Linked DNA regions of Homo sapiens. The protein of the gene in region 7 purifies or fractionates together with the protein of the main gene of each other region. This does not show direct contact. Each region holds a gene or a part of one and is shown on either strand. Other genes may lie near its edges.

Evidence for each region.
Region 1: the proteins of LUC7L (region 7) and ACIN1 purify together in Homo sapiens (affinity purification with mass spectrometry; 3 studies listed by BioGRID and IntAct, with this or other methods). This does not show direct contact.
Region 2: the proteins of LUC7L (region 7) and DDX50 purify together in Homo sapiens (affinity purification with mass spectrometry; 3 studies listed by BioGRID and IntAct, with this or other methods). This does not show direct contact.
Region 3: the proteins of LUC7L (region 7) and CLASRP purify together in Homo sapiens (affinity purification with mass spectrometry; 3 studies listed by BioGRID and IntAct, with this or other methods). This does not show direct contact.
Region 4: the proteins of LUC7L (region 7) and SRRT purify together in Homo sapiens (affinity purification with mass spectrometry; 3 studies listed by BioGRID and IntAct, with this or other methods). This does not show direct contact.
Region 5: the proteins of LUC7L (region 7) and MKRN1 purify together in Homo sapiens (affinity purification with mass spectrometry; 3 studies listed by BioGRID and IntAct, with this or other methods). This does not show direct contact.
Region 6: the proteins of LUC7L (region 7) and PRPF38B purify together in Homo sapiens (affinity purification with mass spectrometry; 3 studies listed by BioGRID and IntAct, with this or other methods). This does not show direct contact.

The regions. Positions count from the first base shown.
Region 1 is NC_000014.9:23,058,064-23,061,100, forward strand, and holds the end of ACIN1 (apoptotic chromatin condensation inducer in the nucleus), read right to left. Parts: coding exon 3,021-3,037; intron 1,412-3,020; coding exon 1,085-1,411; 3' UTR 501-1,084; downstream 1-500.
Region 2 is NC_000010.11:68,932,315-68,935,814, reverse strand, and holds part of DDX50 (ATP-dependent RNA helicase DDX50), read right to left. Parts: intron 1,617-3,500; coding exon 1,455-1,616; intron 1,017-1,454; coding exon 897-1,016; intron 1-896. UniProt on the Homo sapiens protein: ATP-dependent RNA helicase that may play a role in various aspects of RNA metabolism including pre-mRNA splicing or ribosomal RNA production.
Region 3 is NC_000019.10:45,037,755-45,041,844, reverse strand, and holds the start of CLASRP (CLK4-associating serine/arginine rich protein), read right to left. Parts: upstream 2,801-4,090; 5' UTR 2,737-2,800; intron 1,662-2,736; 5' UTR 1,633-1,661; coding exon 1,534-1,632; intron 1-1,533. Other genes in the region: transcription factor RelB, read right to left, coding at 4,055-4,090. UniProt on the Homo sapiens protein: Probably functions as an alternative splicing regulator. May regulate the mRNA splicing of genes such as CLK1. May act by regulating members of the CLK kinase family.
Region 4 is NC_000007.14:100,881,603-100,885,102, reverse strand, and holds part of SRRT (serrate RNA effector molecule homolog), read right to left. Parts: intron 3,445-3,500; coding exon 3,298-3,444; intron 3,051-3,297; coding exon 2,862-3,050; intron 1,034-2,861; coding exon 864-1,033; intron 736-863; coding exon 551-735; intron 364-550; coding exon 265-363; intron 181-264; coding exon 63-180; intron 1-62. UniProt on the Homo sapiens protein: Acts as a mediator between the cap-binding complex (CBC) and the primary microRNAs (miRNAs) processing machinery during cell proliferation.
Region 5 is NC_000007.14:140,455,506-140,459,005, forward strand, and holds part of MKRN1 (E3 ubiquitin-protein ligase makorin-1), read right to left. Parts: intron 1,362-3,500; coding exon 1,147-1,361; coding exon of another isoform or gene 1,143-1,146; exon of another isoform or gene 710-1,142; intron 396-709; coding exon 285-395; intron 1-284. UniProt on the Homo sapiens protein: E3 ubiquitin ligase catalyzing the covalent attachment of ubiquitin moieties onto substrate proteins. These substrates include FILIP1, p53/TP53, CDKN1A and TERT.
Region 6 is NC_000001.11:108,691,143-108,695,109, reverse strand, and holds the start of PRPF38B (pre-mRNA-splicing factor 38B), read right to left. Parts: upstream 2,801-3,967; 5' UTR 2,519-2,800; coding exon 2,243-2,518; intron 1,521-2,242; exon of another isoform or gene 1,468-1,520; intron 1-1,467. UniProt on the Homo sapiens protein: May be required for pre-mRNA splicing.
Region 7 is NC_000016.10:205,450-208,949, reverse strand, and holds part of LUC7L (putative RNA-binding protein Luc7-like 1), read left to right. Parts: intron 1-285; exon of another isoform or gene 286-349; intron 350-761; coding exon 762-872; intron 873-2,802; coding exon 2,803-2,946; intron 2,947-3,500. UniProt on the Homo sapiens protein: May bind to RNA via its Arg/Ser-rich domain.

The DNA.
Region 1 (3,037 bases), on a different chromosome or scaffold from region 7:
GACGGCAGAAGGGTCCAGAGAGTCCGAGGCCCGGGCCCAGGGAGCGGGTCGGGAACAGAGGCACGACATCGGCGGGAGGTCGGAGGCGGGCAGTGGAACCCTTCTTGGGAAGCTCGGTTACAGGGGCCAACAGAGCGAGGAGCTGCCGCCCCCTGGTGGTAGTTGTGGGAGGCACCAAGGTGGCAGGCAGGTGACCAAACCCCTAATTTAACCGTGCACAGGACCAGGAACCAGAAGAGGACCCACCCTCCTAGCCCTGCTGGGGTGCCGCCACGGACACAGGTTGCTCCATGCCTTCCCGAATGAGGAAGGTCCACAGCTTTGGGTTGGTCAGGGCCAAGGCAGGGGATAAAAGACGTGGGAAGTTCAATAAGCAGGAAGCAGTCAGCCTAAAGGAACACATGGAATGAGAGCAACTCCTACTCCAGATATCCTCAGATGTCCACGCTCAGATATCCACAGTGGCTTCTTAACCTGCCCAAAGAAAGCCACTCACACAGTTTAAAACTAAGTCAGATTTTTATTTTTTTTTCCATAGACCACATCATTTAATAATAAAAAAAATAAAAATAAAAATTGAACAAAAGGAAAAGGTGGATATAAAGTGGAACCTGTGGGAAAGAGGCAAGGGCTGCAGGACAGAAGAGACTGGGAACTGCAGGGGCCCTGGGACTCAGGAGGAGATGCTGATTCAGCTCATAGGTGACCCAGTCCTGGCCCCGGCTGTTCCCAAGAGAAGGCTGTAAGTACCCAGGGAGGTGGTAAGCAGGATGGAGGAAAAATCAGAGGACTGGGGCACCTGGCTGTTCCCCATCTCTGGCCAACCACCTCCTTGCCTAACCTAGCTCTTGCCTCTCAGACTTAATGGGAAATGAGAGGGAGGGTCGGGCTAAGTCCCAAGAGATAGGTTAAGGGGGTGTGTTTGGGGGGAAAAGGATGGCCACTTTTCCATTTGGTATGTATGTAGGGATAGGTGATGTGAAAGACCCTTGGCTCCAGGGTGGTGGAGACTGTGCCTATCCCTCTGTGGCCATAACCCCCTGGGGCCGAGTGGCTGGTACCTGCAGCTCTAGTGTTTTCCCAGCTAGCGGCGCCCACCCCGGTCCCGCACAGGTGTGCTCCGACTCCGGCTTCTGCTGTGGCGCTTGGTGTCCCTGCGATCCCTTTCCCTGCCTCGTTCTCGGTCCCTTTCCCTATCCCGATCTCGGTCCCCCCTGTCCCGCTCCCTTTCTCTCTCTCTCTCCCTGTCCCTCTCCCGACTGTGCTCCCGACGTTTCTCTCGCTCCAGCTGTCGGTTCCGTTCCCGCTCGGCTTCCTTCTCCCGCTCCTTTTGCTCTTCTTCTTCTTGCTCCTTTCGCCGCTTCTCCCGCTCCTTGGCCCGTTCGGCCCGCTCTGCCTCTTTCTGAACGATCTGTAGCCAGGTAGGAAAGGCAGAGAATAGGCAGCTCAGTCCTGGTCACAGCCTCCATTTGTGCCTGGACCCTGCCTCCTAGCTCAGGGTCAGCTTTTCAGTTAAACAGGAAGGGGTTGGGGGCTCAACAACTGCATCCTGTCTTTCTTAGAGCACCTCTCTCCCTCCTAGTTTCAGCCTTTTTTTTTTTTTTTCTGAGACGGAGTCTCGCTCCGTCGCCCAGGCTGGGAGTGCAGTGGCACGATCTCGGCTCACTGCAAGCTCCACCTCCCGGGTTCACACCATTCTCCTGCCTCAGCCTGCTGAGCAGCTGGGACCACAGGCGCCCGCGACCACGCCCGGCTAATTTTTTTGTATTTTCAGTAGAGACGGGGCTTCACCGTTGTTAGCCAGGATGGTCTTGATCTCCTGACCTCGTGATCCGCCCGCCTCAGGCTCCCAAAGTGCTGGGATTACAGGCGTGAGCCACCGCGCCCCGCCAGTTTTTTTTTTTTTTTTTTTTTGAGACAGTCTCACTCTGTCGCCCAGGCTGGAGTGCAGTGGTGCTATCTTGGCTCACTGTGGTCTCCGACTCGCAGGTTCAAGTGATTCTCCTGCCTCAGCCTCCCTAGTAGCTGGGATTACAGGTGTCTGCCACCATGCCCCACTAAGTTTTGTATTTTTAGTAGAGATGGGGTTTCACCATGTTGGCCAGGATGGTATCAAACTCCTGGCTTAGATGGAGGCTTAGATGATCCGCCCACCTCAGCCTCCCAAAGTGCTGGGATTACAGGCATGAGCCACCATGCCTAGCCACCAAGTTTCAACTTTTACACACATTGACAGGTACTGGCACCATCCATGCCTGGCCCTTGGTATTTCCCTAGCTCCCTACCGTCAGCGTAGATGTGAACAAATCTCTTTTTTGAGTAGCATAAGCCTAAAATTCCCAAAAGGCCCATTACTAAGAAACTAAGTTAAAGATGCAAAAACTCTTAAAAAGCAGGGAAATGAATTTATAAAACACGATTTCTCAGCTAAATACAATCAAGTTCTTTTTTTTTTTTTAATTGTCTGAGACAGAGTTTTGTTCTTGTTGCCCAGGCTGGAGTGCAATGGCACGGTCTCTGCTCACTGCAACCTCCGCCTCCCGGGTTCAAGCAATTCTCCTCCTCAGCCTCCCAAGTAGCTGGGATTACGGGCGCTTGCCACTGCACCCGGCTAATTTTTGTTATTTTTAGTAGAGACAGGGTTTCCATGTTGGCCAGACTGGTCTGCAACTCCTGACCTGAGGTGATCCACCCGACTCGGCCTCCCAAAGTGCTGGCATTAGAGGCGTGAGCCACCACGCACGGCCTAAAATCAAGTTCTAAGAAGCCTGGTCGGCACAGCCAGCTTCCCAGACATCCACAAACTTCAGCTGCTATCTGCGTGTCTATCTTTACCCTCCTGAGTCTGGTTTCTCTATGTTATACCAATTAACTGAAAACTGCCTTTTTGTGATGCTTAGTTTATCCTAAACCTAGGAAGTACTTGGGCCGACTCACTCTCGCAGTCACATGAATCTCCCCTCACCCTGACCTCAAGCCTCAGTGCCACTAGGGAGCAGGGCACGAAGAAGAGCACTCACCTGGCTGTCAGTCAGTG
Region 2 (3,500 bases), on a different chromosome or scaffold from region 7:
TGCCCAGGCTGGAGTGCAGTGGCGTGATCTTGGCTCACTGCAACCTCCACCTCCTGGGCTCAAGCAATTCTCCTGCCTCAGCCTCCATAGTAGCTGGGATTACAGGTGTCTACCACCATGCCCAGCTAATTTTGGTATTTTTAGTAGAGATGGGGTTTCACCATGTTGGGCAGGCTGGTCTCAAACTCCTGACCTCAAGTGATCTGCCCATCTCCGCCTCCCAAAGTGCTGGGATTACAGGCGTGAGTGACTGCACCCAGCCAAGATCTTTTTTTTCTCATAAATCATCAATTACAAATTTCAGAAAGAGAAAAATAATTTTTTGAATTGCCCCTTAGTTACAATCATGGAATTTCACTTGTAAAACAAGCCTGATTTGAAAAAAAAACAAAACAAAACAGATGTTTAAATCTATCAGCTTTTTTCCTTATTACACTATCTCATTTTACAAAGTATATGAAATTGCATATAAAAACACATATAAAAATAGGAAAAAATGTGAAATACCACAAAAAATCCAGACCACAGAAAATGTACAGTTTCTTTAGAAACTGTCTATTGTACCATACTTAAAAGAATCTTAACTATTATACCAAGACAATCTTTTAGTCACCCATTTACACTAAGAAGTACTGAAATCACAATGCACTTCTGATTTTAGTATGAAGAGAGAAATTCAAGGAAAAGATGAGAAAGTCAGCTCCACTGTCTTCACAATAAAAGCTGTATTAAAGTCTTGAAGCTAATATAAATTTAGATCTCCACAGGCTTCACAGCCAAATGCAGCTTAAACTGAGAAAAGTTATGAAGACCTACTTGTAAGAATAAATATAAGAAGAGCTCTCTTTTAAGGCACCATTTAGACAATAAGCCTGAAATAATTTAACTCTACTTACTGCTTTTTGTTCCACATATCTTAGTTGACCTCTTTCTCTTGGTTGATAAAAACATATACAAATCCCTGTCCGTCCAGCTCTACCTGTGCGTCCAGAGCGATGGATATAGGACTCAACATCCTAAAGATTATAAAAGGTAATATTTTTTAAAAATCTAGCAAGTTGCAGTCATTCCGGAATCCAAATAATAATGTTAATAATAATATATTTATTTCAATCCTGTTGCCCTTTTCAACATTCCAAACAATTTATATGTGTGGATTTTGGGGTAAAGGCAATATGATTTAAAACCTTTTAATCCACCTCATCCCAGGTTTCTTTATGGCAACTTTTTGTAATTCTCTGCCTGATTTTGTTGCTCCATGCTTCAAATACAAACAATAGAGTTAATCATCTGCAAAAGTATCAGAATCTGATAAATTTAATAGCACACTAACAAAAAATGGCTAAGAGCAAGAAGAGATGACATATTTTTCACATCCCAAGCAATATGTTGTAAATTAAATGGGAATTTATAAAATTGCTCTTATTTTTCCCAAATCAAATCCCATTTCCTACCTGAGGAGGAGAACTTTGAATCACCAGGTCAACTTCAGGAATGTCCAAACCACGGGCAGCCACATTGGTTGCCACCAAAACTTTAAAACTACCTTCTCTGAAGCCTTTTAGTGTAATTTCTCTTTGTGACTGTGCAATGTCCCCATGTAAACACTGGGCATTCTATTTGAGAAAGGGGGAGAAAATTAAGTGTACAGCTCATACTTGCAACTGATAGCACAACAACATCTAGTCTGTGCTCCTTTTGCATGTTTTTAAATCTTACTTTGATGATTTTAACAATGCATGCTTACTGTAAAAAAAAAAAGTCAAACATGACAGAAAATATTTAACATAAAATGTAAAAGCTTCCCTAATACTAGTGACTTAGAAATAATTCACTGCTAAGAGTTTGGTAAATATTCTGTCAGATTTTTTTTTTTTTTTAGACAGAGTTTTGCTCTTATTGCCCAGGCTGGAGTGCAATGGAGCGATCTTGGCTCACTGCAACCTCTACCTCCCAGGTTCAAGCGATTCTCCTACCTCAGCCTCCCGAGTAGCTGGGATTACAGGTGCCTGCCACTATGCCCAGCTAATTTTTGTATTTTTAGTAGAAACAGGGTTTCACCATGTTGATCAGGCTGGTCTTGAACTCGCTGACCTCAGGTGATCCGCCAGCCTCTGCCTCCCAAAGTGCTGGGATTACAGGCGTGAGCCACCACACCCGGCCACTTTTTTTTTTTAATACACACATACTCACATTACACTAGCATATACTATGACTTTATGTATTTATTTATAACGTGGATATTACATAGGTAGGGTTTTGTAACCTACTTGATAAATTTAGTGTATCTTAGCTATCCACATCTATAGATAAAATGCTACTTAATTTTTTTAAACTGTATATAATTTATTCATATGGATGCACCAGCATCTATTTTAGCAATATCCTACTGATGAACTTTTGGGCTGTATTCACATTTTCACCTTTAGAAACAATGCTGCAATGGGCCGGGCATGGTGGCTCACACCTGTAATCCCAGCACTCTGGGAGGCCGAGACAGGCAGATCACCCGAGGTCAGGAGTTTGAGACCAGCCTGGCCAACATGGTGAAACTCTGTCTCTACTAAAAATACAAAAAATTAGCTAGGCGCAGTGACAGGCACCTGTAATTCCAGCTACTTGGGAGGCTGAGACAGGAGAATAGCTTGAACCCGGGAGGTGGAGGTTGCAGTGAGCTGAGATCGTGCCATTGCACTCCAGCCTGGGGGACAAGAGTGAAGCTTCATCTCAAAAAAAAAAAAAACAAACAAACAAACAATGTTGCAATGAACAACTTTGTAACTTTGTACTTGTATCTCTGGATGCCTCAGTATCTGTATATTTCAGTAGGATACATATCTAGAAGTTGAATTTCTGGGTCAAAAATTATGAACATGTAGCATTTTAACAGAAACTGTATTATTTAAAAAACTGTATTATAAAAAAAGTTGTGTACCTTTTATTCTTCAATACTCTATGAGTATTTATTTCAACATACCCTACCCAGCTTGTGTATATTATAAATCATTGTAATCTTTGTGAATTTAATAGGCAAAAATAATTTCCCAATGTTGTTTTAATTTACATGTCTGTAATTTTTAGTGACACTGAACCTATTTATATTAGGTAGATCTTCATCTCTGCTGCATTAGTGACACTGAACCTATTTATATTAGGTAGATCTTCATCTCTGCTGCAAATTTCCTGGTATTATAAATACACTTCCTAGTATTCCTGGCCACTATATTAAAGTCAAAAAGTTCATAACAATGATCAGGCCAGGCTCAGTGGCTCATGCCTGTAATCCCAGCACTTTGGGAGGCTGACGTGGGTGGATCACTTGAAGTCAGGAGTTCAAGACCAGCCTGGCCAACATGGTGAAACCTCATCTCTACTAAAAATACAAAGATTAGCCAGGTATGGTGGTGCATGCCTGTAATCCCAGCTACTCGAGAGGTTAAGGCAGGAGAATCATTTGAACCCAGGAGGTAAAAGTTGCAGTGAGCCGTAATCGCTCCACT
Region 3 (4,090 bases), on a different chromosome or scaffold from region 7:
GAGGCCAAAATGACTTGTGCAAAGGAACAAGGCAGAGTGTGGGGTGGTGTGAGTCTGGAGGAAGGGCAAAGGCCAGGCCATGCAGGACCCTAAAGGCCACAGTGAGGAGCCTGGGCTTTCTCTCAAGGGCACTTAGGAGGCATAGAGGTGCTCTGAGCAACGAAGGGACAGGGTCAGTTTTGTGCTTTAGAAAGGCCTCTTGGACTCTTCTAGGAAGGACAGACTGGAGGAGCCAGGACTGGAGGCCAGCAGACCAGGGAGGAGGCTGGGGCAGTAATACAGGAATAACTGGGAAAGGTCTATATAAATGTCATCTGACAGGAACACTGAACCTAGAAAACAGGTGCCATTTCAAGCTGGGATCCCAAGGATACACAGGAGTTAAATAGGTGAGGGGGGGTAATATAGGCCAAAGCCCTGTGGTGGCAGAAATAGAAGGCCAGTGGAGCTGTCCGAGTATGAAGCTGAGTGGTCAGACCACAAGGGTCTTTTAGGCCAGGGATAGTTTGGTCTTCCCCGCAAAAACAACTGAAGCATCAGACAGGAGAGGGAAGTGGTCAGGTTTCACTTAATATTCACTCCTTTTTTTTTGAGACAGTCTTTTTTTTTTTTTTTTTGAGACAGAGTCTCGCTGTCGCCCAGGCTGGAGTGCAATGGTGCTATCTCAGCTCACTGCAGGCTCCGCTCTGCCCCCCTCCCCGGTTCACACCATTCTCCTGCCTCAGCCTCCCGAGTAGCTGGGACTACAGGCACCCGCCACCTCACCTGGCTAATTTTTTGTATTTTAATAGAGATGGGGTTTCACCGTGTTAGCCAGGACGGTCTCGATCTCTTGACCTTGTGATCTGTCCACCTCGGCCTCCCAAAGTGCTGGGATTACAGGCGTTGAGTCTTGCTCTGTCACCCAGGCTGGAGTTCAGTGGCACAATCTCCATGCACTACAGCCTCCTCCTCCCGGGCTCAAGCAATTCTCGTGCGTCAGCCTCCCAAGTAGCTGGGACTACATGCACACACCACTAAGCCTGGCTAATTTTTGTATCTTTAGTAGAGATGGGGTTTCACCCTTTTGGCCAGGCTGGTCTCGAACTCGTGACCTCAGGTGATCCACTTGGGATTACAGGCGTGAGCCACTGTGCCAGGCCAACTTAATACTCACTCCTATTGTGTGCCAAGCCAAATCTCAAGAGTGGCTGAGCTCTTCTGGGAATGGGGAACACAGCAATAAGCGAAACAGACATTCTGGAGGTGGCCAGTCTAACGTCAGGACTGCTCTGAGGGTTACAGAGACTTCCCTTTTTCTTGCTAACACCGGATCGGCACTGGGAGGCCACACCAAACGACACAGTATGCTACAACAAACAGAAGCCCTTGGGATCCCACCAATGATTATCCTCAAGAAAAGATTAATGAATATACTCCTGAGGAAATGAGCCTCTTGTCTTGACATACTTCCAAGCCCAGATTTTACCAGGATGACCAGCTGTGCCCCCCAACCCAGGGTCCCTCACCCCAGACAAAAGGCCAGTTACTCACGATCTTTTCATAATACTCCCGTCTCCGCTCCGCCCTCTTCTTGTAGTCGACCATCATGCCTCGAAGCTTCCGCTCATGCTTCCGAGCCTCGTGCCACATTGTGGTGAGGCCAAGCCTGGGGCCTCAACCTGAGGGATGAAGGGACCAGGAAAGTCAGATGGTCTGTGAAACCCGTATGGGCAGAATCAAAGTCATCTAACAAGTTGGTGGCAGAGTCGATCCCAAACAACACATCTCTTAGCTTCAGGGAGCAGAAGTGAAGCTGCAGAACAGTATGCCAGATGTTCAAGTCCATCCCTAACAACTTCGATCTAGAAGCTTGGGCATTCTGAAAAACCCTCAGGTGATTCTGAGGTGAGCATCACTGGGAAAGGGGTGTCCTAGATTCCACGCGCTGGAGTCGGGAATGAAAGGTTTTGAAACATCAGCAGTGTTTGAAGTAGGGTCAGAAGGCAAACCCTGAGCACTTAAGGCTGGAGCTCAAGAGAAAGAGAAGAACTGAAAAGGCTCCCACTAGGGGCCATGCGTGGGGTTGGGTATGAGTCTGGGTGGTAGAGGGATAAGGAGAATAAGGATGAAGGCAGGTGGAGGAAATCGGAGAAAGCTTTTAAGGGAACAGTGCAGTTGTATGAAGGTGGAGGTCGAGGACAGGTGAAGGGCGTGGCGGAAGATGAAGATGCTAGAGGGAGTGGGAACACGGGGAGGGAGTGTTGCAAGGAGACCAGAGTGAAGCTGAGGTCTAAAGATGGGATCTAGATGGCGGGGTGGGGAGAGCATCCAAAGAAAAAGAGCGTAGAGCCTGAGAGAGGCGGAGCTGGCTGACAGGAGGGCGTGGGCTGAGCTTGGGGGCAGGGCTTGCGGGAAAGGGCGGAGACCGAAGGTTTGGACGGGGCTTGTGGATCGCGTCGCGGCCTGAGGATTTGGGCTGGGTTTTTTTTTTGTTGTTTTTTTTTTTGACAAGGGGGCGGGGCCTGTGATAAGCTGCTGGGCCGAAGGCCGAGTTCGACGCGGCAACTTCTGGCCCACAGCCGGGGCACGGGCTCGGCCTGAGGCCCGTCAGGCCTAATGGGGTGAGGGACGAGCGATCCTCGGGGCCGGGACGCAGCAGAAGCCCACAGCAGCATGGGGAGAGCCTGAGGAAAGGGAGAAGCTGGGCTGAGGCCTGCCCGAAAACCGGGAGGTCGAGCCGCAGCCTGCACTCACCGGCTGGTCGCCGCCTCCCACCGCTGCGCTCGCGCGCGGCCCGCACCGGAAGCGGAAATGAAAGGCCGCGCTAGGGGGAGGGGGCGGAGCATGGTGGAGGGCCGCGCAGCGCACTTCCGCCGACGAGAGAGGCGGGTCCTAGAGTCGAGAGGGGCGGGATCCCGAGGAAGAAGTGGGAGAGCGGAGAAGGGAAGAGCTTGGATGCTTTATCTTTTTATCTTTTTTATTTTATTTATTTATTTAATTTTATTTTTTTGAGACGGAGTCTCTCTTTGTCTCCCAGGCTAGAAGGCAGTGGCGCGATCTAGGCTCACTGCAACCTTTGCCTCCTGGGTTTCAGCTATTCTCCCACCTCAGCCTCCCGAGTAGCTGGGACTACAAGCGCGCGCCACCAAGCCCGGCTAATTTTTGTATTTTTAGTAGAGATGGGGTTTCACCATTTTGGTTAGGCTGGTCTCAAACTCCTGACCTCAGGTGATCCACCTGCCTCGGCCTCCCAAAGTGCTGGGATTACAGCCATGAGCCACCATGCCCGGTCTCATTTTTTATTTTCATTTTCATTTTTTATTTTTTTGAGACACAGCCTCGCGCTGTCGCCCAAGCTGGAGTGCAGTGGTGCGGTCTTGGCTCACTGCAACGTCCACCTCCTGGGCTCAAGCGATCCTCCCACCTCAGCCTCTAGAGTAGCTGGGATTACAGGCGCGCAGCACCACGCCCGGCTAATTTTTGTATTTTTTGTAGAGACTAGGTTTCGTCATGTTGCCCAGGCTGGTCTCAAACTCGTGAGCTCAAGCGATCCTCCTGCTTTGGCCTCCCAAAGTGCTGGGATGACAGGCCTGAGCCCCCAGCCTGGAGGCTTTCTTTGCTACTAAGGGACTAGGGCGTTTCCCAAGCCCAGAACAGACGAAACCCCGGAGGCTCAAAAACTCATCTTTATTGGGAAGACTCTGAACAACCAACCTACCCCCCACCTTCAAGTCTGGGGAGGGAGGGCCAGGAATCTGCCCCCTCCTCCCATATGTACAATCTTTTCCGAATCCTACTGGAGAAGGTGCCCCCACATGTGGGGACAGAGGCAGCTGTAACAAGCTAGTGCACGGGAGCCATGTCCCTTTTCCTCTCCGGACTCAGTTTCCTCATCTGTAAAATGGGCTCAAGGGGAAACCCGTGCAACGGAGCTTCTCGCCAAGGCTGAATATGTCCACTTCAGAAGCATGAGGAAGGGCCAAGGGGATGGGGGTGCTAGACATCCTGGTTGGGATTGCACGGCTCCTCCACCTCCCTCCCCACCCAGTGCCCCTCCTCTGGCATCGCGGGGCTACGTGGCTTCAGGCCCCGGGGATAGGAGGCCGCC
Region 4 (3,500 bases), on a different chromosome or scaffold from region 7:
CAACCTCTCACCTCCCCACCCGCATTAGGAGAACGCACTTTAAAGCAGAAAAGAAACCCTACCGGCCTCCTCCTTCTCCTCCTCAGCCTGGCCGCTCTCTGACTCCGACTCAGACTCTGACACGCTGCCCTCGTCAAAGCTGTCGTCACCACTGTGCTTCCGGTTCCGCTTCTTGCTACTCTGTGTGAGCCACAGCAGAGGGGACAAGTCAGCGTGCCAGAACCCCAGCCCCAACACTCTGACCCCAGGCCACAGACACCTCACCTTTTTGGCTTCCTTCTCGGAGTCTTCTTTCTTCTCTTCCTTGTCCCCATCACCCTCCGACTTCTTTGTTTTGTCATCATTAGAACTGTCATTCTCAGCCTATGGTAAGAGACAACCACTGGGGATGTCAAACCTCCCCTCCCACCTTTATCAGAGGGCCCCCACCCCCACAGCTGAGGCCACAGGTTCATTTTCCCCAGCCCCCTACTTCTAGCTCCTATGGACCCCTACCCGCCCCCCTCCCCCAGGCTGCCAGGGACAACACTAGGAGACCCAGGGCTCGGACCTGCTTGCCGTCTTCCTTCTTCTCATCCTTGTCGTTGGTTTTGCGCTCCCCGTCCCCTAGGCCTGCTCCAGCCCGTCCTTCTTCTTTCTTGCTGGGCTCCCCAGGCTTTCCTGCCTGCTCCTCCTCCTCCTCCTGCTCCAGGATGCGAAGATCATTCTCCGTGCCTCCTTCCATCTTAATCACGGCTACCAACAAAGGGAACAGAGGTCATGACCCCAGGGCCCTGGCTCCTGTCAACCGGCTTCTACCTGATCCCCAGACACCCCCACCCCCATGGGGCCCAGATGCCTGCCACCCCTCCAAATCCGCACACCTGCATCCAGCATCTTGACAATGGCATCAGCTTTGTCTATGTCCAGGAGAAGGTTATCAAACCAGCCAGTCTCCATGAGGGACAGGAAGACCCTCAGTCGGTTTTGCAGGGCCCCCCGGGCCTCCTGCCGACGCTTCCCCACCTCATCTGGGTGGTACTTAGACCGAAACCTGGGAACGAAGCGGGGGAGGGAAAGACAAAACAGTTATTGGAAGCCAAGGCCAGGATGTGGGAAGGGGCCCAGGAAAGACAGGGCATATCCCCCTTCCTCTCACAACCACAAAAGGTCATCAAAATAGAGAGATTAAGGGATAGGGGTGCGCTAGAACCACCCAACACCCCAAAAGGAACCAGAAGTTGTGTTCTGTGAAGATTTGGGGGAGAACCAGGAACTAAGAGCTCTGGATTTGGGAAGACCAATGACTACAGGGGGACGCCAGGGTAGGAGAGGCAGATTTACCACTTTAAATCTCTGGGAAACACTAACGTAGTAAAAAGGTGTCATTTCCCAAAGCTTCAGAGAGGAAGGCTCAGGAAATAGCAGGCCCTGAAGAACCTCCCTCTCCTCACCAACCCCAAACTGCAGTCATTCAAAAACTGCTCCCGCCAACTCCCTCCACCCCGAGGTGGAAGACAGAGGGCCAGATAGCAAAAGCCCAGAGGCAGGGCACCTTTCTCCACCCGTGGGAAGATAAGCAAGACGGTGAAGGGACAGGAAAGACCGAAGGGAGACACTGGAGTGCCCTTTAGAGCCTCAGGTCCTGCCCACAGGGGGAGAGAGAGGAGAGGGCTGGAAGGTTAGGGAGAAGAAAAATAAAACATTTCAAATAGGACCTCAGAGGGAAAACAGAAGAAATGAGGAGTATGAGGAAAAGGGGAAAGGGAGGAAAGGGGAGAGTGTGAGAAAGTCCCAGAAACCGAAAACAAAGGGAAAAACTAAAGATCAGAGAGAGAAACTAAAAAAACCAACAGGGAAGAAGGTGGTGTTAGGCAGGGAGCAAGAACAGAAACAGAGAAGAATGAAGGTGCTGAGAGATTAGGACAAAGACACAGAGCAATTCGAGAGAGGGGACAGCGAAGACAGAACAGAACCACGAGTGGGGCAGAAGAGGAAAGGAAAGCCGCAGGCATCACCTCCAGGATCTTTACCTTGGCCGCTTGGTCAAACAGAGCTCAAGATTTAACTAGCGGCGCCCAGGGCCCATGCTGGCTGGTGGGCCACCGGCTGGCTCCTGGCTGGGCGCCCGGCCGAGATGCCCACGCGGGACTCCGCAGTGGGGCCTGACTGGCTAGCTGCCTGAGCAATCACATTCAGCTAAACCGCTGCATTGTGCACAGCAGTGCCCTGGCCTGTCTGCCTGGCCGGGGCCGCGCAGCTCAGCCCAGGGGCTCATGTATGGGCTGGGTATGGTGGGGGTGGAGGTGGGTTTGCTCCGAGCTCCGTCGATGAGCGGGTGTAGTTCCCAGTTCTGGCTCTTTTCAAGGAGGAGGAGCAGAAAGAGGATGAGGAGGAGGAGGAGCAGGAAGGGGGGAAAAGATGGTTGATTAAAATTAAAACATCCACAAAAGGAAAAAAAAATTAAAATTCTTTTTCTGTCAAACGACCGAGATCTTTGCTTTTCTTGTCTGGATTCACTCGTCGCTTTAGGAGGACGCCACAGCCACACAGGGTCCTGGTGATCAGGGATGACAATGACCCAACACCAACAAGTGGGAAGCAGTCTGTCTGCTGCCCCAAGGGGCCAAGTGGCTCTGGCCTGCTGCCTGGAGGTGTCCCACTCTCTGAGGACAGCAGGACAGGAGACAGGGCGGGGCGGGGGCCGTGGCAGTTGCTGAAGTGAGGGGGAGACCCCATCAGCCAATGCTGTCATACTTCCCGACCCCCGCCCCCAGAAAGTTCTGGACAGGGAAAACTGGGAAGAGGACAGGGCTGTGGCTCCACCAGCGGGGCCAGGGGGACATGCCAGGGCAGAGGTCCAGGGAAGTAGGGGCACTCACCACTCCTCATCTTTGTGCGCCAGGAAGAAATCCTGCATCTGTTGCCTCCGGAAATCCAGCTTGTAGTCATTATAGCGCTTGACGGCCTCCGTCTCATCCACCGAGTCATCCAGGGAGAGGAGAAACTCCTTGAAGGTCTTCATCACGGGCGGCGGCACACCCAGGTCAATCTCTGCAATGCTGCCCAGCCTGGAGGGGACCCCGGTCAGGAAGGCTTGGTTTTTGGGGAACGGTGGGAGGCTACAGGGGCCAAAGTAGCTGGGGCCCCTTTACTTTGTCCACCATGGACATCACCCCAAACCCCAACAGCTACCACCCCTACCCCAGGGACATGCCTCTGTGTGCCTGACCCGCTCCCTGGCTTCAGCCATGGCCTTCAGCAACCCCATCCATCCCCCAGGCCTACCAACCCTCTTCTGAGAAGCCCCACCCTTACCTGGCCTGGATAGGCAGGACATGGTGCTGCATGATGTGGACGTCAGGGTGGCCCCAGGGCTGAGGGGGGCCATAAGTTGGGCCCCCACCCCCCCCAGCATAGGGCATCTCATAGCCACTGTGGTATGGGTCAGAGCTGTGCTCATCCCTGAAGGTGGGGGACACAAAAGTAAAGCAGAGAAGGGAGTCACCTCCCCAGAGCAT
Region 5 (3,500 bases), on a different chromosome or scaffold from region 7:
GGACAGCTATGACACGGATTCAGAATAAGGTAGAACCCCACTCATGGGGCCTTACTTGTCAACAGTAGAGACCTCTTTATAACACAGTCCCTTGGCATGGACCCCAAGGACTGTGTTATAGCAAGATATATACTGGATGTTATCAGGGTGACAAAATAAACTGTCCTGGGAAGTCAAAGAAGGGTAGGAAGGAGGTAGGAGTGTATAATGCAGCACCATTCTTTTCAAAGTGAACCCAAGCTCTGTTGGGCTCTTCGCTTGAGAAAAGGCTGCAGTGCTCATACCTCATTGCCTCCTTGTATTTCAGAATGAGTTTCTGCTTCTCTTCTTTCTCCTCCACCCAGTACTCACTTGGAATGACAAAGTTAGATGTGATCCGGCATTCTGGGCAGGACCTGGGAAACAATGAACAGGCTGCAATGCAAATTCCCCTTTTACAGGCCCACTCTTCAAGGACACACCCTGGTGTGTCGCCTCCAGACTTAAAGACTTAACTGAAAGGCACGTGGGCATTTCCTGAAAGGGTTCCACATACTGTCACACAACTGACCATTTCTTTCAAGCAAGGCAACCTCCTTTATAAATCCAACTCAAGGGCTAGCCAGTTCTTTTTTTTTTTTTTTGAAAAATATAACTTAGGTAAAAAACAAAAACAAAAGAAGACATTTCACACAGACTCCTTTTTCTTTCGTTTAAATAAATTTATTTCTTGTAGCTTTGCTCTGTTTAGATTATGTGGTTTTTGTTCAGTTATGAGAACAATCTTTAAAGGATGGTGGATTGTTGGCTAGCTTAATGAATGGAATAGGAAAGTGGAAATGTAAAACGTCAGGAAACATACATTCAGAGCTAGATCAGTTTGTTCACTGAGCCTAAACTGGCTAATAATCCATTAAACACAATCTCCTCAGAAAAAGCACGAAGATTCTAACTGATACACAGGGTTTCCTCATTCAAATAAAAGTAGATAGACCAACTAACCTAGAAGCTAGCTGAAATACAAAGAAGAAATCCCCATTAGAATATCCCAGTTTCAAGATAAAATGCATGCATTTAAATGCGGTCCATCTGGTTGAAAGTTGGCACAAGTTACTAAATTCTTCCCCAAAAGAGAAAGCACAAATGAAGACTGGGGAGGAGTCTCACTTTATGATCTTGCTCTCAAATTGCTTAGCACTCCTCCACTTGCGAATGCACTTGAGACAGTAGGTGTGGTTGCAGTTGGAGAGGATCCCGAAGCGGCGCTCACTGGGGTTGGCTTTCTCATAGACCACCTCCATGCAGATCCCACACACCATGTCCTTGCTGCGCTGCACGGCAAATGAGAGCTCCATGTCCTTCTCATGGGCCTCAATGCACGACTAGAGAAGGTGGAGAGAGAACAAGTGGAATCCAGTCATTGAACCCTGAAAAACTTGAGCAACAGTTAATGATTCACAGTCAAAGAATCAAATAGTCAACTGAAAAAACAATGTTCCCAAGCTGACACGAAAATTAGCTTTGCTGACAAGTAAACACAGGTGTGGTGTTTTTTTTTTGTTTGTTTGTTTTTGCGGTGGTACTTAACAATACTAGAAAATCAAACTATGAGGACTCAACTTCGGGAACTGAAAAATTACCCAATTTTCTCTACCCCAAACCTGGAGCTCAACTACATTAAAGACGGTTTTCCATACTGTTTGTTATTTCTGGTTTCTACATGAGGTTAAGACCCTAGTTAAAACCTGTCGGAAAATAAGGGTGACAGGCACGTAAACTCTCTTATGCCTTTAAAGAAAAACAACTTCATCGAGATTTTTCAACTACTCAGCTTGATAGACTGATGCACACTTAGGTTAGGTTAGATTAGCCCACTTTGGGGCTATTATAAATAATGCTGCCAAGAACATTCATGTACCAATTTTTGTGTGGACATCATATTTTAACTTATAAAAAACATGATTATAGGAAACATAAAAATGCAGAAAACTCCCAGCACTTTGGAAGGCCAAGGTTGGGTGGATCACATGAGGCCTGGAGTTCGAGACCAGCCTGGTCAACATGGCGAAACCCCATCTCTACTAAAAATACAAAACTGAGGCAGGCGTGGTGGTGCATGCCTGTAGTCCCAGCTATTCGGGAGGCAGAGGCTGCAGTGAGCCGAGACTGCACTGCTACACTCCAGCCTGGGGGACAAAGCAAGACTCTGTCTCAAAAAAAAATAAAAATAAAAAAAATAACACTGCAGAAGAGCAATGTCATCCATAATCTCACATCATCACTAAACATGTCTTTTCCTAAACCTTTAAAAGAAAAAACATATATACATATATTCAGAGGTAGGTTCTACTACCTCAATATATAGATATAACGTATAGAGATTTATCCTGCCTAAATTCACAAAAGTACGCTGAAGATAGGGATCAAATTATGTCTACCTTATAACATGCCTCACACCCTAAAACCACATTTAAAAAGATGGAAATTTAAAAGAGATGGAAATGATTAGAAGCAAACTTTGCTCCAATAAAGTTAAAGTTTCTAACACAATGTCTTCTGAACCTACCCTGGCTCCCATACACTGCTGCTGGAAATGTAAAATCCTGCAGCCACTGTGGAAAAGTATGGCAGTTCATCAAAACGTAAAGCAGAGTTCCTATGTAACCCAGCAATTCCACTCCTAGGTAACGGAAAACATATCTTCACAGAAAAACCTATATACAAATGTTCCTAGCAGCCTTATTCATAATAGCCAAAAACTGGAAATGATCTAAGTGTCCATCAACTCATGAATGGAAAAACAAATGTGGTCTAGCCATACAAAGACAATAATTCAGCCATCAAAACTAAGAACGGCTACACGCAACCACACAAAGAACCTTGAAAACACTATGTTAAGTGAAAGAAGTGAAGTCAATCACAAAGGACCACATTACAGGATTCCATTTACATGAAATGTCCACAATAGGCCAATCCAGAGACAAAGCAGATTCGTTATTGCCAGGAGCTGGAGGAAGGCTGGAATAAAGAGTGACTGCTAATGGGTGTAGGATGATCAAATTATCCTAAAATTAGTAAAATGGTAATGGTTGCACATCTCTGTAAATATACTAAAAACCAATGAAATGTGCATTTTCAAAAGATTAAACATATTCAATGTGAATCTCAGAAACATTATTTTTTAAAAGAGGAAAAAAATGTTAGAAGTCTATAGTCTGAGTTTCTGGAAGTAGGACTTCTTTTTTTCTTTTGCCTCAACCTCCTGGGCTTGAGCGATCCTCTTGCCTCAGCCTAACAAGTAGCTGGGACTATAGACACATGCCTCCATGCCCAGTTAATTTTGTTCACTGGAAATATGACTTCTTGATAAAGCATCCAAGAAGCCCAAGAAAGGAAAACTTCCCTACTCACTGATAACCATTCAATTCATCAAATGTTTCTCTGAAATAAACCCACAATGCTGTGAAAGGGCAAATAATGATTCTCACATCTAATAACACACACATCTCCCTAAAGACTTA
Region 6 (3,967 bases), on a different chromosome or scaffold from region 7:
CATTTTTTCCACCAGGGTCAGGTTTATTCCTGATTAAAGATAAAATTACAAAGGCCACACTTACAGAGATCATTGTTGTAATTAAGCTTCAGCCTAATTATGTGTGAACCAATCCAATTATTCCCCAGAATATAAATTGTGTCAAAAACTGAGTGTGAATAGTCACTGGCATATACTAAGTATCATCAAAGATGATACAGTATCATATTTGCTAAGAGGAACATCTTACAAAAACTAGTCCTTATCTAAAAATAGCAACAACAACAGCAACAACAACAAAAGAATATTAACTCTAAAATAGAATCCAAAAAGGTCTTTTGGGAAGACCCATCTTTGTTTTTTTTTAAAAACATAAAAAAAAATCCTGTTTTTTCACTGCATATTTCTAAAATTCTATTTCCACCCACATGGTAAATTTTGTAGTCCTGAACAATGGCTTTAGATAGAAAAGCGTGCATGTAAGTTTAAGCACTACACTATTTTGCAGTGCTTTAACGTTTCCTTTCTTCCCCACAGATTGCCATGTAAAAGATGTTTCAATTCCTTAAAAGCTAGCCAAAGGCAGGGCTGGATGCATACAAAATAAAATTACAAAGTTGGAAACTTATAAATTTCAGTGAGTATTTGATCTGAAAGTCTTAAGTCTTCTTAATATTAGTAAAAAAACTGGGTCTTTAGTTTTTTAACGGAATTTAAAAACAATTCCTGGTAGAATCTTGTTTCAAAACACATTTGAAACTTAAAAACGAGACTTTCCTCTATTACATTAACATTTTGCCTATGTTAGAAAACAGAACCTGCCGCAGAAAGAGCAGGAACCCAATTTTCAACTGTTTAAAGTTTACTGCATAAATAAAGCTAAGGATTAAATGTTATTCACCATACTGTATCCATGCTAAAAAGGTCTTACCTTTTAAAAGCTAAAAAAACTAATTCATAGAATTACAATCAGACCTACTCTCGTAAGAGGATTCCAAATTTATTTGTGTACTTTATCAACCCAAAGTTGAACTGTATTCAAGAGATGTTTTCTATAAAAAGCAACTAATCTCTCAAAATCCTTCAATAACCTAATTACTCAACTGGGGGAAAAGGTGGGCAAGACAAAAGAGAATGTCCTTTTGTTACCATCTCTACACATACGTTCAAATGATAGAAAACACTTTGTGCGGTCTGTCAAGTTTTTAAGAGTGAATATAGACAAAAATGGATTGTGTATTAGATGCTCCGGATAAAATTTTTAAAGACCACTAAGGCTATTATTAATATTCTTTAAAATAGAAATTAACTTTCGGAGGCCTGGAAGGTATTTTTTATACTACATAATTTGCAGGGAAGTGGAAAAAGCCTACCTAATTGGTGAAGGACCAAAAGCAATGGCCAAAAAAACCCACAAAAATCTAATTAGTCGTTCATTTAACCAGGGAAATGCATTTATGGCGATTGAGCATGATTAATAGTGCATACCTCTACCTGCGACCCTGGGCTGCTCCGAGCCTCGCTGCAAGACTGAGTCAATCCTGCTAACGAAACAAGAACTGAGACAAGAGTGCAGTGAGGAGGCGCCAGGTGAGCTCCCCAGCACAGCCAAGCCAGCACCGACCCTGCCGCAGAAGCCCAGGGCCCAGATAATTCTAAATTAGCCCAATGCACAGGTGGCTGAGACCTCTTACTCCTGACTTCCTGCTGGGAAAATTTCCAGGCCTTCTGTACACCTCTTGAAATGGCACCTCTCCACCCTCATCCCCCCACCCCACCCGACACACACGCACTGACCATTTCCCTGCCTGGATCGGATAGTGAGTACCAACAACACGAGGCCAATACTGAAGTCATTACACGCCCTGGCCAGGGGTGAGCGGGAGAAGCACCAACAAGTTGGCGCTCAGCAGATCCACGTCAAAAGGAATAATTTTAAAGCTGTAAACTGGAAAGGCTTCTGTTACTCTTTCCTCCTCTCCCCCATCCCTCTTGCCCAACTCCCCCCAGGGGTGGGCAGGAGGTTGGGGGAGGAGAGAGATCAATAGTGGCGGGCTCTCCCGGCCCTAAAAATCTAAAATGGAAACGAGAGGGCGGCCCCAGTCCGACCCCTCCCAGACACACTACAGGCCGCAGCCACCCCTCCGCCGAACCACCTTCCCCCACCCACAAATCTTCAGATTTCGGGGGCCGCCTTCGCCCGTTTCCTCCATACCCCCTCTTCCGAACTTACCCCCAAAGCCAAGGCCTACACACTTCGTACCTTAAAGTAGATCTCGTCCACCACCTCGTGGTAGGTCTTGAGCTCGTAGAGCTGTACTTTGAAGTAAGGCGACGACAGGATGTTGGTCAGGATCATGGGGTTGAGGTTCATGGTCTTCTCGTTGCCCCAGAGCGGGAGCACATTGCCCTGCTTGCCGGAGACCGCCGGCTTGGTAGCGCCGCCGCCGCCGCACTGCTGCTGTTGCTGAGCCGCAGCTGCAGCCGCCTGGTGCTGCGGCTGCGAGTTGCCTGTCAGCGCGGGGCTGTTGTTAGCCATGTTGCGGCGGAAGGAAGGAGGGAGGGAAGGAGGGGGGGGAGGGGGCCAAGCTCGATCTCGCTCTTCGGGACAACGGTCTGGGACCCTACTCCATCGAACGTCGTCGGGAGAAGGGGCCGCCTCGCTGTGCCCCAGCTGGGCAAGAGAGGGCACCCGACGCCGACAAAATGACCCCGGGCCAAGAGCAGACAGCGAAACCCAGACCGCGAGAACTCCACGCAGAAGGCGAGCCGGCAGCCAGGGAGCTCGATCTCTTCCGCCAACTGCCCCTGGGAACAAGATGGCGGGCCCGGCGGATATGACGCCACGCACCCCAGCGTTCCAAGCTGAGCTGGCGGCCAATCAGAGACGCTCAGTTGGGCTGGAGCGTCCTCTTCCTAGGTCCCCGCGTTCTCTGCACGCTGAAGTCGCTGCAGTGACCTCCGTACCTGACTCTTAGGGGATTTCTCCTGAGAATTTGGGGGCCGGGGGAGAGGGTTGTAGGCCTAATCCGTTGTTGTTGTATTTTGACTGGGGGCTTGATTTCTTTTGTCGGGAGCTGAGCCAGGAAGGGTTCGCATGGCTGCGGTGTGCTTGCTAATATCGTCACTCTGACTTCTGCAGAGTATCCGAGAGGGGTCTCCTGGGATCTCAGTTTTAAGGTTCTCTGGAAGGTACAATGGTCAGGGACCCCACTCCTCCAGGAGATTCTGATCAAAGGTCACGTACTTCGCCAGCCTCTAGTGTCCAGCCAGAAGTCTTAAATTTATTCATCCGTAAGATTGAGATAACATCTGGCTGGGCTGTTGTGAGCATTGAAAGAGCTAATGTACTTGTAGTGCCTAGTAGACTGTTCCAGGCATCTGGTAGGCGCCTTTTCTTTTTCTCCCTGCTCCAGATCTTTGGATTCTAGGAATGTATCCGGAGTGATAAACATTGGGCGAGATACTGTATATTGGGAGTGGGTGTGTGAATGTGTGGGGAGTTTGAATGTGGCAATCTTGACTTCAGTGGCGCATACACAGGAGGAGAAAAGGATAAGATGGAAACTTTGGGGAAAATCCACATCTGGATGAAAATAAACCAGAAGAGGAGAGAGAGAGAGCGAAGACCAGCAGAAAAGTATTTAAACCAAGAGACAGTTGTTTGACAGAATACAAGGAAATAGAAAAGATAAGTGAATGGAGTGATTGATTAGTGTTTGGAGCTGTACGGTACGAAAGTGGATATCCTGTCTGGTTCCTTTGTTTTAGGTTGCAAGAGAACTAGAACCCTGAGAGGAGAAGCAGTTTTCACCTTCTTACTAGCAAATCTTGTTTTTCTCTATAGTGGTTTTTATTAACTTCCAAAGGAAAACTGAAGATCCTAACCCCTGTGTCATGAGTTATCACGTTAAAAGTCCATAGAAAAAATTTTTTTTAACCCAGTTCTTTTTGTGTATATATTTTTTGCCTTGATAATACTAGTTTA
Region 7 (3,500 bases):
TGCTGGGATTACAGGTGTGAGCCACTGCGTCCGGTCCTGTCTCTGTTTTTATCTGAAATTATGTTAGCCTTTGCCTAGTTATGGTGAATTAACCTTAGCATATGATAGTTCTCTTAATGTTTCCCACCACCCTTTTCAGAGTAAGCAATTTGACGTCTACAGCTTCTTTTCCTTTATCTCTTTGGGTAAATAGCAACCAATTTTTCCTGCTACTTTAGATAGTAGGCAATAACAAAATGTATTCATAGCTCTCAGTAATATTTGTTCTATTGTTTTGTTTTTGAGGTGAAAGGGGGGACCCTACCCTCAGAACATGAGGGAATAATATTTACGTGGCTCACAAAGACCAGTGAGTACATCATATGCATCTCTCACAACTCCCCAGAAGAGGGCCTCCAGCACGAGTCTAGGCTCAGCCTTTTCTGTCCCTCCGAGAACTCTATGAATTGCTGCCAAGTGTTTTAATTTTCCTCAGAATTTCTTTGTAATGTTATTGAGGGTTGGAGGTCCTTTTACAAATTTTGGAAATAAGTAAATCAAATGAGAAGACCATGCTTCCAAACAATCATTCTGTTTAACAGATCCCCTTGATTTAATGCAATTATGAATGCGTTAGTGGTAGTGTAGTTTAAGATCTTTCCCTTGAATGTACAGGCTTTAAAGAAACGAACCTAGGAGTGTATTTCCTATCAAGCAAATGGGTTCTAAGACTTTACGCTTTACACATCATTGATTATAGCGCTGTGCTTTTCCCGTGCTAGGCAATGGATCACTTGGAGTCCTTTATTGCTGAATGTGATCGGAGAACTGAGCTCGCCAAGAAGCGGCTGGCAGAAACACAGGAGGAAATCAGTGCGGAAGTTTCTGCAAAGGTATGCTTGGGTGGCTTCGGTGTCTGGTGTGTTCTTAAAAATACTGGCTTGTCAATAGCTTTTTTTTTTGAGATGGAGTCTCCCTCTGTCACCCAGGCTGGAGTGCAGTGGCATGATCTCAGCTCAGTGCAAGCTCCGCCTCCCGGGTTCATGCCATTCTCCTGCCTCAGCCTCCCGAGTAGCTGGGACTGCAGACGCCCGCCACCATGCCCGGCTAATTTTTTGTATTTTTAGTAGAGACGGGGTTTCACCGTGTTAGCCGGTATGGTCTTGATCTCCTGACCTCGTGATCTGCCTGCCTCAGCCTCCCAAAGTGCTGGGATTACAGGCGTGAGCCACCGCGCCCGGCGTTGTCAATAGCTATTAACTGACCCTCAGCACTGATTGTGTGGACAGTACTCTCTGCCTTACTCCAGTTAAGGATAGAGGGCTGTGATCAAGCATTCATGTGTCATGGAATTCTCATCCCTCAGGAGCTGCTACCTCTGTCTTTTTATTCTCTCCATTTTCGTCCTCTGTACATGGTTTATCATTATTTTTTAATTTTAATATATTCTTCGCTGAGTTTGGTGGCTTATGCTTGTAGTCCCAGCACTTTGGGACACCAAGGTGGGGGCAGACTGCTTGAGCCCAGGAGTTTTAGACCTGAGCAACATGAAGAAACCCCATCTCTACAAAAAATACATATATTAGCCAGGCTTGGTGGTGCACATGTGTATCCCAGTTACTCAGGAGGCTGAGGTGGGAGGATCACTTGAGCTTGGGGAGATTGAGGCTTCAATGAGCTGTGATCATGCTACTTTGCTTCAGCCTGGATAACAGAGTGAGACCCTGCCTCAAAAGAAAAAAAAATTATTGTCGGTTTTTTTTTTTTTTTAAGAGACAGAGTCTTGTTCTGTCGCCCAGGCTGGAGGGCAGTGGCGTGATCTCGACTCACTGCAAGCTCCGCCTCCTGGGTTTACGCCATTCTCCTGCCTCAGCCTCCTGAGTAGCTGGGACTACAGGTGCCCACCACCACGCCCAGCTAATTTTTTGTATTTTTAGTAGAGACGGGGTTTCACTGTGTTAGCCAGGATGGTCTCGATCTCTTGACCTCGTGATCTGCCCGCCTCGTTTTCCCAAAGTACTGGGATTACAGGCATGAGCCACTGCACCCAGCCATCTTTTTTTTTTTTTTTTTTTTTTTTAATAAAGATGGAGTCTGTTGCCCAAGCTGGTCTGGAACTCTTGGGCTTAAGCAATCCTCCCGCCTTGTCCTCCCGAAGTGCTGGGATTACAGGTGTGAGCCAGCATGCCCAGCCTCTGCATGTTGTTTTAAACTTTAATATCTCCACATAAAACTGGAAAGAATTGGTAAGGAAATGGTCAAACTGTGGTACATCCATATCATAGAATGAAAAGGAGGTAGATTTATATGTAATTAGACTGAGTGCCATTTACATCACTCTTCTGTTTTTCTCTTCAGTGGAACTAAGCCTCTCCTTGTTTTTTCTTTTCAGTGTTGTAAAAGCATTTCTTAGGATTTATGCAATTGCTAATTTGACCAACGGTGCTATTTTGTTTCAGAAGGTAAATCCTAGTAATTAGGTATTTTGGTTACAGCTTAAATCTGTACATTTAAACCTAGGCATTTTATTACCATACCCAGAAGAAAAAGTCATAAAGAGAGACAGCCTAGACAATGACCAATCTGTGATGATCCTTGGAAGCATGTCGGAAGTGACAAAGGTGCCACTGGTTTCATTGGAACATAGGACTCGTTTATGGTTACAGTCTCAATGCTGGCAGTAAGGATGCCTTCATTGTTAAGTGTGGATCTTTAGCTCTTCCACTTATTTTCAGACTGGAAATGGAGCAGGAGAAACCCTTGTTGCCTTTGCATTCACTTTCATTTTCAGATGTCTGCTTACCTCATTCTTTCTCCTCACAGGCAGAAAAAGTACATGAGTTAAATGAAGAAATAGGAAAACTCCTTGCTAAAGCCGAACAGCTAGGGGCTGAAGGTAATGTGGATGAATCCCAGAAGATTCTTATGGAAGTGGAAAAAGTTCGTGCGAAGAAAAAAGAAGCTGAGGTTGGTGAGATAAGTGCCTTAGGGCAAGAGAAATCTTAGTAATTTGGCAGCGTTGACCGTTGGAATTAATTGAGCCCATGCTTGCTCCCATTTTTTAAAAAATTTATACATTTTGGGCCCAGCACAGTGGCTCACGCCTGTCATCCCAGCACTTTGGAAGGCCGAGGCGGGCGGATCACGAGGTCAGGAGATAAGACCATCCTGGCTAACACAGCGAATCCCCGTCTCTACTAAAAATACAAAAAAATTAGCCGGGCATGGCGCCAGGCACCTGTAGTCCCAGCTGCTCCGGAGGCTGAGGAAGGAGAATGGCGTGAACCCGGGAGGCGGAGCTTGCAGTGAGCTGAGATTGCGCCACTGCACTCCAGCCTGGGCGACAGAGCGAGACTCTGTCTCAAAAAAATTTATAAACGCTGTTTTTGCAAGCAGTTTTAGCTTCATAGCTAAATTGAGAGGAAAGTACAGAGATTCTCCATGTACCCTCTCCTCAGACAGCCTCCTCCATTCCTAGCATCTGCCCACAGTCAGTGGGTCTACGTTGACTTGTCATTATC